Homo sapiens: one gene and its partner. The protein of the gene in region 2 purifies or fractionates together with the protein of the main gene of each other region. This does not show direct contact. Each region holds a gene or a part of one and is shown on either strand. Other genes may lie near its edges.

Region 1 (7,420 bases), on a different chromosome or scaffold from region 2:
CTGCCCAGGAAAAACAAATGCACAGATAATGAGGTGCGCCGACACTGTTCATGAGTAAGGAATAACCATGGATCATGCTAACTGCTCTACGTGCCCCGCCGCCTGGACCCTACTGTTGCCTCCTTAGCGACAAACCACCACAGTCATCCCCTAATTCTCCAACTCAGTAGCTTGTTTAATGGGCTACCTCTTAAAATTTTCATTTTTAATTTAAAAATTACTCTTGGCTTAAAGACGCCACACATTATTACTGGCCAGTCCCCACCAATTATATTTGTTTTGATAAAAATAAAAATGCAAATACTCCAACTAAGCCTGGATGATAACACGCCATTTTGTATCTTTTACATTTGAGGAGATTTTTGTGAAGCTGAAAGCAAGCTACTATTTGCGCTTGAAAGCAGAAACAAAATGCAAACCTTCCAAAAGGTGACAAAGGCACCACTGCCATCAGGAGATAGAAAATGTACAAATGCTGTTACTTTACGGCTACATCAATGCATTTTGTGCATGGAGAGCCTCTTAATGTGATAAAACTAGTAGAATTATATTTTCAGTAACAAGAAAAGCAGTTAGAAAAGGCAAACAGTTACACACAAAAGCATAAACACTTACAAGTACCTTAATGTGCAGCTTGCAAGAAGGGTAATAAGTTTGCCATACATATCCATAAAATTAGACAAGGTGATTTTTGGCACAGTAATATTGCCAAACACACCACCACTCAGTGCAAGCTTCGTTTGCCAAGTCCCCAAAGTGGCCTGACATTCTCTGTGCAATGAACATTTCTCCCTCTCTACCATCCCATTCACCGGGCAATAGCAGCAGGAGGGAGACAAAGCATGGGGACTCAAGGGAGAAGTAAAATACTTGATTTGGAAGAAAAACCATGGGCTACTTGTGCTAAAAGAGAGTCACAAAGTTTTCATGAGAACCCAAATGCAAATACTGACTGGACTATGACCTGGAGTCTGAAGACCTCTACCAGAGTCATAAATACAAGGGCCTAAACTGAGGTCTGGCCATTTATTTTAGAGGGACCATGAAGTATTTTTTTTCTAAAGGAGAAATATAATTAAAAATAGAGATTTTTTTCTTATTGGAACTGTTAAATAAAAATGTATCAAAGTGGTTTTAAATTTGATGGACAGTTATCTGTTGAAACTGCAATACAAAAGGGTCATTAAAAAAAAACCTGAATAACCCACTTGTCCCCCCCATCAATGTACACAATTAGAAAATATTTACACACTGTAAATTACAAGCAATATAAGCAGTATTTTATACTTTGAGATTTTGTACACTTTACACAATGCAAAATGAGAAAAATATGAACACGTATAAAATTACACACAAATAATGTATCTACAAAGGATTAAATTACAGAACGAAAGCCCCCATCGTTGGGCAGATAGATGCCAGAGTTTCAAGCTTCTGTCAAATAGAACTCTTTGTATCTATCTCTTTAACCATAAGTGGCATTTTGTAACAATACCCTTGAGAGGTAGTATCAAGATAATAATATTCTTACCAGTAAACAACACAGAATAAAACTTTTGTTGGTCTGACTCTTGGAGCCTCAATCAGTTTAGGTTCTTGGAAACTGGATTTACTTAGTCTTCCCTATAAAATCTCTGACTGCCAATGCTTGATTGACATGAGCTCAAAAGTTACTGATGCTATTTTAAATGATAAATTTAGGACAAAATGCTTTTTACTCCTAAGCCTCAATTTAGAGGTAGAAAGTTATTTTATTTTCTTGCCTCTCAAACCGCAAACATCAAGTCCAGTTTCTGTTCCCCTCCATCATCTTTCCCCCCCACAACTGGAGACACTAGAGCACTCAGGAGAACAGGTCACTCAAGCCAATACTGAAAGAACAACAAAAAAAGTTGGCATTCTTTCAGGAAACAAACCCTCCTAAAAGGGACATCTCGTCAACAAAATAATTTTCTAGTTGGCTAGTAAGAGTTTGTTACTACCCCTGGGCTAAAAACAACGTGTGCACTTCCACTAACCCTCTACCATTTAAACCAAAGGATGGCTCTCCAGTGTTTAAGAATTTACAGCAGCTGTGGTTTTGAAGTGCAACAACTTCAAGATACAAGCGCACACACACACACACACACACACACACATACACAGACACAGTGTCCCAAAGAATTCAGGTGTCTGCCAAAATTATATACTCATGGAAACAAGGTTGTTGGAAACTTGTCCAGATCTTTAGGCTTTTACAATATAGACTTCTGTAATATGGTTACCAAGAGCCAGAATTCTAAGATATAGCCAAGATTCTAAGATTTAACCAGTATTTAAAATACATGCATTTAAAAGAAATCCAGAACAAACAGCATATGAATGTTCTGGCATCAAAACAGGGCCACTACTTTACAGCTTAACCTCTTCCTCTTAAGGGGATCTGACAACATGCCAAACTTTTGTTTCTCAACTGTTTGTTTAGATGTATTTTAAAAACAGATTTATAATCTTGAGTAATGAAGGAAAATGCATGGATTGAAACCTCCCTGTGGTTTATAAAAGTTACAGAAGAGATTTATGCTTTTTATTACTAAACTCAGTTTTAAGCATTCCCTTTGTGTCCGAAAATAACCAAGAGGGAAAATTAAACCCAACTGGAACTTGGTCTTGCTTTCCATGTCCAACTTCTCAAGTTAGTCCAAGCTCTTTTCTTATATATTTCCTGTGATTATCCAAGTGACAAAAATACTATCTAAAAAAGATAACTGGCTTATAATTTAACAAGAGGAGTTAACTGGGGCAGGTTAGACATATGACTATTATTCTGCTTCTACCCCTCCCCTCTTTTAATAAGACTCTGCACTTTTGAAAGGTCAGTTGCCTTAACAATTAAGCAGATCATATTTCATATCTGCTTCAGAAATGGCAATTTCTTCATTACCAGCTTCATACTAGATATTCAAGTGGCACATTTGCTGTACATTTTCTTGGCATTCATTGGATTCTGTAATAATCCTTTCTACTCCTCTATGAAAGGCTCTTATTGAATTTCTCTTGGTTCATATTTTTGCTGCTGCAACTCCTATTAAGAATCTGGTACCCAGAAGTCATGAAGCTGCCCCTAAAAAAGGGAAGGAGAAAAAAGAGGGTAAAGCAAAATTTAATCATATTATGAATTAATCCTTATAAAACTACTAATCATCAGACAATGGGCTTTGATAAGACAAGTAATAAAATCTTTATATTGACTTCTCTGAAAATTTATGGTAATCAGATTCAAATTTCACATTCAGTAGTCAAACAACAAAAAACAGTAAAAAATAAGTGCAGGATGTTTTTCTCACCACTGCACACATGGAGGGGCTTAGTTAAGCAGATTAAATAATGTTAAGCTGATTAGTATAGTTTTGCTATTAAATTATTTTCTGTTTTAATACCACATCAGTACATGACCAGCATTAAAAGAAAATCTATTAAGGTTAGAAACAAATACAAAAACAACAAAACATAAATATAAGATTTCTCAAAGACTTAAAATAGAGAGATTGCTTTATCTACTTAACATTCAGTGTTCCTATTATTTTGATATAAAATATAAGCAACTTCTAGGCCCTGGCTACTCAAAGTTTAGTCCCTGAAGCAGCAGCATTGGCATCAATCTGATAACTTGCTAGAACTACAGAATATCAGCCAGGCGCGGTGGCTCATGCCTGTAATCCCAGCACTCTGGCAGGCCGAGGCGGGCGGATCACGAGGTCAGGAGATCCAGACCATCCTGGCTAACACGGTGAAACCTGTCTCTACTAAAAAATACAAAAAAATTAGCCAGGTGTGGTGGCAGGCGCCTGTAATCCCAGCTACTGAGGAGGCTGAGGCAGGAGAATGGCGTGAACCCAGGAGGCAGAGCTTGCAGTGAGCCGAGATTGCACCACTGCACTCCAGGCTGGGTGACAGAGCAAGACTCCGTCTCAAAAAAAAAAAAAAAAAAAAAAAAAAAAAGAAGTACAGAATATCTCAGTTCTCACTCCAGACCTATGAGTCAGAATCCATATTTCACCAAGTTCCTAGTTGATTCCTATGTACATTAAAATTTGAGAAGCGTCATTTTAGACAATCCTATGCCAGTTACTCTGTAAACAAGCAGGCTGGCACACTTACTAGCAGGTGTTAAAAAAAATGTCCCTCTTAGGCAAAGACTCCTTAGATATAACATCAAAAAAAAGTGTCAAAAATATATACATAATAAATAAAAATAAAGGAAAGGCAACACACAGAATGGAAGAAAATATTTACAAATTATATCTCTAATAAGGGATTTGTATCCAGAACATACAACTCAATAATAAAAAGACAAATAACTATATTCAAAAATAGGCTTTTTGAAATGAAGTATGGGATGAAAAAAATGGGCAAAGGATCTGAATAGACATTTCTGCAAAAAAGCTATACAAATGACCAATAGGCATATGAGAAGATGTTTAACACCATTAATCATTAGGGAAATGCAAACTAAAACCACAATGAGATTCTACTTCCCTACTCCCTACTATGGCTTTAGTAAAAACAAGTGTTGGTGAGAATATGGAGAAATTAGAAACCTCAGACATTCTGGTGGGAATATAAAATGATGCAGTCACTTTGGAAAACAGTCTGGTAGTTTCTTAAAACACTTAACATAGAATTACCATATGGCCCAGCAATTTGACTTCCTTTTCAAATGTTTCATTTGAGAACACATATTCACATAAAAACTTGCATACAAATGTTCATGGAAATATTATTTGTAATAGCCAGAATGTGAAAACAATACAAATGTCTGATAAGTAGATAAATAAATGTGACATATCCATACAGTGGAAAATTATTTGGCAATAGAAGGGATGTACATGCTATAACATGGATTCACTTATTATTATATTAACTGAAAACAGCCAATTACAAAAGATTACATAGTATATCTCATTTACCGATGTCCAGAATAGGGAAATGTATAGGGACAGAAAGTAGATTAGTGTTTGCCTAGGATTTGGGAGGAGTCAGGAGGGGAACCAAGGTAGTAGAGGAAAGGGGAATGAATGACTGCTAATGGGTATGGGATTTCTTTTTGGGGTGATGAAAATGTTCTAAAATTAGACTATGGTGATGTTATTCACTCTGTCAATGTAATAAAAACCACTGTACACGTTAAGTGGGTAAAATCTATGGTATGTGAATTCTATCTCAATAGATCTGTCTTAAAAATGCTCTTAATTGAATAACCTCCATTTGATGCAATGCAATATTTTTAAATGGGCTCAACCACTTCTGGAAATAAATTAATGAATATAAAGCAAACGAAAACTAAAAAAATTACAAACCATGTATTATACTGGCGTTTTCAGTTTATCTTAAGATAACTAGAAGCAAGTGCACTGTTATACCCTATTTTATTTCAAACAGTATGAAGAGTGCCATTCAGCAAAACTATTAAGAATACATGAAATTGTATAACAAAATGACACCTGAGTAGGCCGACAGTTCTGGATTATTTCCTGCCATTTTCCATGTATCCTGGCGACCAAGTCTTTCACCTTAAAAATATCAAAAACAGGAAAAGGGATCAGATTAAAACATTCTCACCTACAATCAGCTTAACACTACACAAAATATCTGACAGCTGCAACAGGCCCACACTCAACAACTCAATTTGATTTCTGTCAACAAAGAGAAAATAAACTACTCATCTTTTGAAGGAGATTTCAAATCATAGAAATTAATAAGACTCCCTTTATCATCATAATCTAAACTATTGAATGCTTATGATTTAATTTTCCTGTTATTGAAGATCATCCCCAAAAACACATTCTCTGCCTTCAAAGGAACTTAACTTTAACTCGCTGGCTTTTGAACAACCAGATAGAGAAGCTGAAGGGTGGTCTGTGTCAACAGGGCCCAAGGCTTTGGCTGTTCTGTGCCTTCCCTTCCCAGCTTCCCTTTGAAAGGATCAAAGCCATAAAAAAAACGTTTATTTGTCCCTCTCCACATTATTAGAAGATCCAAAATTCACTGTTACTCCTCTCCATGCTTGTGCCCAAGTACTACGAATCCCCTTTAAATACCTCGTATTTTCCTACATTTGGAGGTTTAGCAAGTGTCTGTGCACAACTGAAACTGTAACACAAAACCCAAACTCTATCACTCTAGAGATTCTCAATTAGCTATTGAACATAACTGCTTGAGAAACATGTTTTCAACAAGTCAGGAATTTTATAGCAGCTTTAAATTTATAAAGTAAACTACAATCTATGCTTTTTTCTTCATCTACAGTTCAAATTTCTCCAAAACAATCACCAACTTTTCTATAATAGAGGCTTTTGGAGAGGCAGGCAACTCATCTATTTCAGCAGGACCATCCCTTGAAGCAATTTCCACAGACCACTGTGTCGCTTTCCACTTTAAGTAAGAGAAGCACTGGCAACAATCTGTGCCAAGCCCTTGTCTTTAAGAAACATAAAACTTGGGTGGTCCCCTTTTAGCATGGCTGTCAGTAGTAGCCACTACCAAGTTCTACAGGCCAGCAATTCTGGTCAATGAATGCTCAAAAGAATGTGCTTCTGAAACTAGAGTTCTACTCTTGGGGAAAGAGCTATCCCCTACATGTATTTGAAAATCAGAAATCTGATAACTTCATTAGTTGCTTATTTTTGTATTTAACTTAAATTTACTAAAATAAATACATATGTTAAATCTGAATGGGCATTGTTCAAATGACTAACCTTTGCAGCTAATTAATGTAAGATATTAAGTTACAAAGCTGAGGCTTCACATTCAATGACTATCCAAAGACAAGAGGCAAAAAGAATCAGCATTGTATTACATTATCAAAGCTAAAAGATAATCTTGGAATAAAAAAATCTTTAGAAAAAAGTATGTTTATTTTATTTTGTTTTATTTATTATTATTATTTTTTGAGACAGAGTCTTGCTCTGTCGCCCAGGCTGGAGTGCAGTGTCGAGATCTCAGCTCACTGCAAGCTCTGCCTCCTGGGTTCAAGGGATTCTCCTTCCTCAGCCTCCTGAGTAGCTGAGACTACAGGCACGCACCACCACACCTGGCTCATTTTTGTATTTAGAAAAAAGTATTTTAAAAGTGTCTGATTTTATGTTTCAGGAAAAACTGTCAAATCATTCTATTAATACTAACATTATTTTCCTACTCCATACTCATATATTTGGCTTTTCTACTGTCTTTGAGTATATAAAACCTTTAAGAAAAAAAGCTTAGCAAGCTTAGTGCTGAAATCATTTCCACCCTAGAGCTCAGACTAGGTGTTGTACGACCCAAAGATTTGAAGACTCCTGGCTGGGTGTGGTGGCTCACACCTCTAATCCCAGCTCTTTGGGATGCCGAGGCAGGCAGATCACGAGGTCAGGAGTTCGAGACTAGCCTGGACAACACA
Region 2 (6,699 bases):
CTGAAGCATCCTGACTGATGCTGGGGTTCAAGAGAGGGATGAAGATGGGGACTTAACAAGTGTGAGGATGGAGGAAGTGCAGGGAGCGAGGGGCTGACCAGTGCCAAAGGGCGAGCGGGTGCTAGCCAGGAAACAAAGCCAGACACCAGAGGGGAGGGCGCGCAGGCCCAGGGCGCTCTGTGTAGAGGCTCCGGAGCTGACGAAGGAAGCGCTGCACCCTGAGCAGTGGGTGGGGGGAGGCGGTGGCAGATGAGCAGGAGCCTCACCAGGGGTCACAGCCCTGCTGCAGCAGTGGGGGCATCCAGGGGTCTTCTGCAGGGAGCACAGAGGCAGAGTGTGGGCCGGGGCTGGAGCTCAGCCTGAGGCAGCAGTGGCAGGGCTAGAGGGCTATTGGCAGCTGGGCTGGACAGGATCTGGTGACAATGGGATGCAGGAGGGTCAGGGAGAGGAAGCACTGAGGCTGACTCCCAGTCCCGGCTGGGACAGCTGGATGGCAGGGCTGCCGGGCACCCACAGGGAGCAGAGCGTCCAGGGAGGGAGAGCACGCATCCCGCCCAAACGCCCAGCCTCAGCCCATTCAGGCCAGTGGCACCTTGGGCCAGGGGAGAGTCCAGACTGGGGAGCTGGGGAGGCCAAGGCTCACACATCCAGGTTCGGGCCAGCCCAGTCCTGCTGGGACAGCTGGCCACCGCTGGGACTGGAGGCAAGGCTGCCCTGGGCAAGGACAGTGAGCTGTTCTGAGTCATTGCTGGGGGCTCTTGCTGGCTTCACCTGCTGGAGCCCAAACCCAGGGGGTCTGAGTGACGACCGAACTCCAGGAAAGGCAAGGCCCCAACACGGAGCCTCACACACGGGCTCGAGAACACAGACGGGCTGCAGCAACTTCCCAGGATGGTTTATTCCAAAGCTGTGGACGGTGAACATTAAGACGAAAGAGGTGACTCGCGTGGAACCTGAAACACGGACGCCTTTCTTCCAAGAAGGGCTGTGGCGATCAGGCCACTCAAGGCAGCCAGCCCCTCAGCAGGGCACGATGGCTAATGCTGCCTGGACCGCAGGGACTTTTTGTTCGATTTCAAGACACCAGACTCCCTCTCCTTCTCAGGGTCGAAGACTTCTGTAGACAGAAAAGGCAGGAAAGACACAGTGAATGGAGGGGCTGGCAGCACAGGGGCACCAGCTGGAGCCAGCAGCTACGTCTCCTGTGCCAAGGACTGTCCTAGGTCTACACCATCCTTCACTGCTAACCCTCCCCAGCCCGTGAGGAAGGCAGAGTTAGCCCCAGTTCAGAGAGGAACAAACTGAGGGAGCTGTGGACATAGCTTTCACGTCCCCCTCCTGAGAGGGCTGCCAGAGAGAGAGCCTTGTCTAGACAAAATGCTCATACACGTTGGAATTTCAGCTGGGTTCTAGAAAGTCCTCTGGAGCGGTGCACGTAGCTCAGCCTTTACTTCCTGCAGTGGCTTCTTCTAGGATTCAAGCTGCTAACACGGACCCCCACACACCCTGGAGCCCTTCAGGGCCCTGTCTCCAAGGGCTTCCCTGGCACCAGGCCCCACGTCCTGCTGGCCCAGCCCCTCCCATGAGCTCCTCAGGGCCCACGCACTTGGGATCTCGTGGGGCCAGTAGTCGTTGCAGTGGGGGCAGCGCGGTTCAGCATTCGACTGGAAGTACTTGGCCACGCAGGGTAAGTGCATCCTGATCCCACAGGTTTCGCAGCTTTGACCCTGAAACAGGAAAGGCCAATGACGGCGGAGCTGGTGCACACCTCCATGTTCTGCAAACCTCCGGGGAAGCCACAAGGGAAATGGGCAGCAGGTGGCATCGTGTTATCTTCTGGGCCCCAGATTAATATTGAAAATAATCCCAAACGCCTTAGTGCAGTGGAGTCTTTTGTTTGCTTGCTGCTTGTTGCGGTGGGTTTTACTAAACAATTCTGAACACATGAACGCAGTGACAGAAGCCGAGGGCTCCCAAACTCCTGCACTCAGATCCTGCAGGTGGCGTGTGGACAGCCACAGCTTTTCAGAAGCTTATTTGCTAATGTGAATCAAAAGCTTTCAAAAAAAAAGTGCACTTTGTCCCAGAAACTCCGCCCAAGGAAATAATCACCAGGTGCCCAAGGATACAGGTGTACGAGGCCCGTAAGAGCAATTGCAATTACAAACAGCTACAGCTGCAAAACGATAGAAACTGAAAGACACATCAATGTCCACGCTGGTTCAGCGGTTGCAAAGCCCTGCAAACCAGTGTTAAGACCACTCCAGAAAGCAGCAATCGACAAGAGACACTCACTACAAAACTACCAAGATGATGCAGGTTGCACAGAACACTCAGCCTTCCTGAGAAAAATAAAGTAAGCGAGGGCCCTTGGACCCCAACAGCAGAACCAGGGAGGAGGGCGGCAGTGCGTCCCTGCGGGGCACAGCAGGGAGGCGTCCTGACACGTCCTGGGAGATGGCCTCCGCCAGCTCTTGTGGGAGGATGCGCCAGCAGTGCAGGAGGGCTGGGCCCAGAGCCAGGATTCCGGGAAGTACCTGTACAGAGCCCCGGGAGCCGAGGGCCCAGTGATGAGCTCCCGTGCCCTGCCCTGCGGGTACCTGGATGAGGAGGCTGTGACAGATATTGCAGATCTTCACCGCGTCGGGGTACGTCTCCCGGATGTATTGCTCCATCTCCAGGATGGCCCGGCCGTGCAGGGTGAACTCCCCTTCCTTCTGCAGGGACACACAGGAGGTGGCCACCCTCAGCCAGGCCCTCTCCCCATTCACCACCTCTCTTCCCTCTGTGATCCCACAGCCCAGTGCTCAGGAAGACACAAGGGTCTACGCAGCTTTTCACCAACCCCAGCCAACGGGCATCAGCCACATCCCCCTGGCAGAGCCTCGGCAAGGGAAACTGAGGCAAAGACCCTAAAGACATGGAGGCGTGGCTCCCTGACACCCGCCTTTTCTCAGCATCTGCTGTGCCTTCAGACGTGACTTCTCTGTCTGCACGGCAGCCTCGAGGGAGGCAGTCACAGCCCTCCTGCAGATGAGGACGCTGAGGCCCACAAGGGGGTCAGTCTCCCCAGGGTGCAAACCCAAACACCCACTGCTGCCATCCGCCACCCATCCCACTCCCAAAAAGCAGCATCCCTGGTGCCTCCCAGCACTTCTGCCTCCCAGCACTTCTGCCTCCAACTGCAGTAGGGACCCTCAGAGATCACTTCCAGCCACATCACTTTACAGATGGAGCTGGAAGGAGTCTGGAGAGGGCAGACAGGCCCCATCACACTGTGGGCAGTGGAGCCTCCAGTGGAAGCCAGGCCTCCTGGTTCCCATGCCAGGGTGCGGTCCACCCATCATGCATCCTGAAATCCCTGGGAGAGCCCGGAAGCACAAGAACAATGCAGCTCCCCAGGCCGACCCTACTGCCAGGTCACAGGAGAAAGGCAGCACTGAGGGAGACCCAAGGCAGGCAAATGACACGGGACCCAGGACATGGACCCATGCAGGCTGATTCCAGTTTCTCCACAGTCAGCTCATGCATCGGATATGAACCACACCAGGAGATGACGTCACTGACGCCTGCAAGTCACCCGAGTGCTCAACTGCCTTTTCTGTTATTTTCTAATTTTTAATTTTTACAAGCAAGAGCTGTCACTCCCGTTTCTTTTCTTTTCTTTTTTTTTTTTTTTTTTTGAGATGGAGTTTTGCTCTTGTTGCCCAGGGTGGAATGCAATGGCACAATCTTGGCTCAATGCAACTTCCGCATCCCGGGTTCAAGCAATTCTCCTGCCTCAGCCTCCTGAGTAGCTGGGATTACAGGCATGCGCCACCACGCCTGGCTAATTTTGTATTTTTAGTAGAGACAGGGTTTCACCATGTTAGCCAGGCTGGTCTTGAACTCCCGACCTCAGGTGATCCGCCCACCTCGGCCTTCCAAAGTGCTGGGATTGCAGGCGTGAGTCACCGCACCCAGCCCACTCCCGTTTCTGACAGGTAGAGCCCCCCACCCCATTCCCACCTTCATCCCCACAGTGCAATGTGGAGGGGTGTGCTTGCGTAATCTGGGCTCACAGTGCGTTCGCTCTGGAACACCAGTAGAGGAGCTGGGTGAGCACAGGAAGGAAGGCAGGGCAGAAGCGTGGGGTTGGGGCATGGACAGCCGCTGCGGGAACAGTGGAGGGAGGCCGGGGCACCAGGTGCTTGTGCCCTGCACCGCAGCTGTTGCTGGTGCACAGGGGCTTTGTGTCATCCAAGTGCTGTGGGCAATGGGAGGATGTGACCAGCCCCCAGGCTGTCCTCGGTCCTCAGTCCTATGGCTGTTACCTTCCCCCAAAGCTCCCAAATCCATCATGGCACCCCACCTCCCTGGCCACCGCCCTCTTCCAGCCTCCCCTCCAGATCCATCACGGCACCCCACCTCCTTGGCCCCCACCCTCTTCCACCCTCCCCTCCAGATCCATCACAGCACCCCACATCCCCAGCCACCACCCTCTTCCACCCTCCCCTCCAGATCCATCATGGTACCCCACCTCTCCAGCCCCCACCCTCTTCCACCCTCCCCTCCAGATCCATCACAGCACCCCACATCCCCAGCCACCACCCTCTTCCACCCTCCCCTCCAGATCCATCATGGTACTCCACCTCTCCAGCCCTCACCCTCTTCCACCCTCCCCTCCAGATCCATCATGGCACCCCACACCCCCAACCACCGCCCTCTTCCGCCCTCCCCTCCAGATGCATCATGGTACCCCACATCCCCGGCCACCGCCCTCTTCCACCCTCCCCTACAGATCCATCATGGCAACCCACCTCCCCGGCCTCCACCCTCTTCCACCCTCCCCTGCTCCTGCTGCTCTCTGAGCCCACTCTCCTCCAGCAACGCACTCGCTACCGAACAAGCCTGGCCCTGTCACTCCCAACTCACCCCCACCCCAGGGCTTCCCACCACCCTTAGGTCCAAGAGCCAAGCCCCTAATACGCGTATCTCCCGGGCTGCCCTCCGTCTGCTCGCCTCGCAATCTTTGTGCTCAGATGGCCCTGGCCTTAGCTTCTTGAGTGCACCTGCTGGCCACAGGGCCACTGCCGGGCTGATGATCCTCCCACCCCAGGCTCCAGGCAACTCCCACACAGCCTTCAGCTCAAGTGTCACTTCCTCAGCAGCTGAGGGCCGGTTCCTCTGGGACAGCTGTCATAAAGCCATGTTTCCTTTCCATCTGTACCAGGACTGCAGTGAGATGACCGTCTCACTGATCTCGGGCTCCCCCTCCAGACCATGGCCCCATGGGAGCGGCCACCAGCTCTGGCTGTGCTCACTCCTGTGTCCGCAGCACCTGCTGTGGGGCCCAGCACTTGGCAGGCCTGTGATAAACACCCACGGGAAGATGAAGTAGACCTTGCACTGATCCCAAAGGAATGCCTGACACTAAGCAAGTTCAAGCTCAGACTGAGGCAGGAGCTGCATTTATTTTTTATTTATTTATTTGAGACAGAGTTTCGCTCTTGTTGCCCAGGCTAGATCATGCAATGGCACGATCTCAGCTCACTGCAACCTCTGCTTCCAGGGTTCAAGCGATTCTTCTGCCTCAGCTTCCCGAGTACCTGGGATTACAGATGCCCGCCACCACACCCAGCTAACTTTTTTATATTTTTAGTAGAGACAGGGTTTCACCATATCGGCCAGGCTGGTCTCAAACTCCTGACTTCAAGTGATCTACCCGCCTTGGCCTCCCAAAATGCTGGAATTACAGGTTTGAGCCACTGCACCCAGCCAAGCTGCATTTACTGAACACCTGCTATGTGCCTGAAACTGCACCCAAGGCTCACCATTCATGACCCACTCAGTCCTCTGAGGGCCCATCAGGGGAGGGGCAGGAGGGATGCCCTAGCCCTCAAAGACGACGACAGCCCAGGTGATCTCCCAGGCGCCTCGCCACAACACTTGGAAGTCAGGACCTCGTGTAGGGAGCAGTCCTGGGGTGTATGGAGGTGCGCCGATCAGCAGACGCCCAGCTCCCATGAGCCGCGCTTGCTCTCAGAGGCCTCCCCGCTGACCCCAACCACCTACCACCCCTGGGCCTTCTCCTGGACGGACAGCTGCCTCAGCACCTCCATGCCGGGCCAGTCTCACACAGGACTGGCTGTCCAGGAGTGACGTGTCCTTGGGGTGATATACCCACCTGGAAGGGCCTTGTCAGTGGGCCCCTGGCTATTTCTGTGGGAAGCCCTGTGTCTGAGAGGCCAAGGATCAGACACTGACATGTGGTCTCTCTGATCGAGGTGCTGCCCTAGGAAGACCTGTCCTGGGTAAGTGAGCACCCGCCCCGGTTCTCAGTGATTCCTCCAGAGTGCCGCAGACCTCAAGGCAACCCTTACCAGGCCATGTAGGTCAGAGAGCACTGGACCCTCACAGAAAACACCTGGAGCTGGCAATGTCCCCATCCTGCAGATGAGGAAACAGTCTCCGCAACGAGAAGCTGCTCACCACAGGCAGCGGAGGAACCTGGAGGAGTCTCACCACACAGCCCCTGCCACATTAGCTTCGTTCCTTCGTCCTCCTGAGGGCCCCAGCAGGCCAGGCAGTCAACAAGAAGCCTCTCTAGGGCTACTGCCCAGCGCCAGTGCTGAGGGCCCCCTGCTACTTCTGCAGCGCTCCTGCAGGTGGCAGCTCCCGGATCCTCTGTCCACCCTCCCTCGAGCTCAGAGGCGCCCT

The links.
Region 1: the proteins of NSMCE1 (region 2) and SLF2 purify together in Homo sapiens (affinity purification with mass spectrometry; 3 studies listed by BioGRID and IntAct, with this or other methods). This does not show direct contact.

What each region holds. Positions count from the first base shown.
Region 1 is NC_000010.11:100,957,560-100,964,979, reverse strand, and holds part of SLF2 (SMC5-SMC6 complex localization factor protein 2), read right to left. Parts: intron 5,553-7,420; coding exon 5,484-5,552; coding exon of another isoform or gene 5,409-5,483; exon of another isoform or gene 5,392-5,408; intron 3,104-5,391; coding exon 3,068-3,103; 3' UTR 1-3,067. UniProt on the Homo sapiens protein: Plays a role in the DNA damage response (DDR) pathway by regulating postreplication repair of UV-damaged DNA and genomic stability maintenance.
Region 2 is NC_000016.10:27,224,120-27,230,818, forward strand, and holds the end of NSMCE1 (non-structural maintenance of chromosomes element 1 homolog), read right to left. Parts: intron 2,718-6,699; coding exon 2,601-2,717; intron 1,728-2,600; coding exon 1,607-1,727; intron 1,118-1,606; coding exon 1,038-1,117; 3' UTR 875-1,037; downstream 1-874. UniProt on the Homo sapiens protein: RING-type zinc finger-containing E3 ubiquitin ligase that assembles with melanoma antigen protein (MAGE) to catalyze the direct transfer of ubiquitin from E2 ubiquitin-conjugating enzyme to a specific substrate.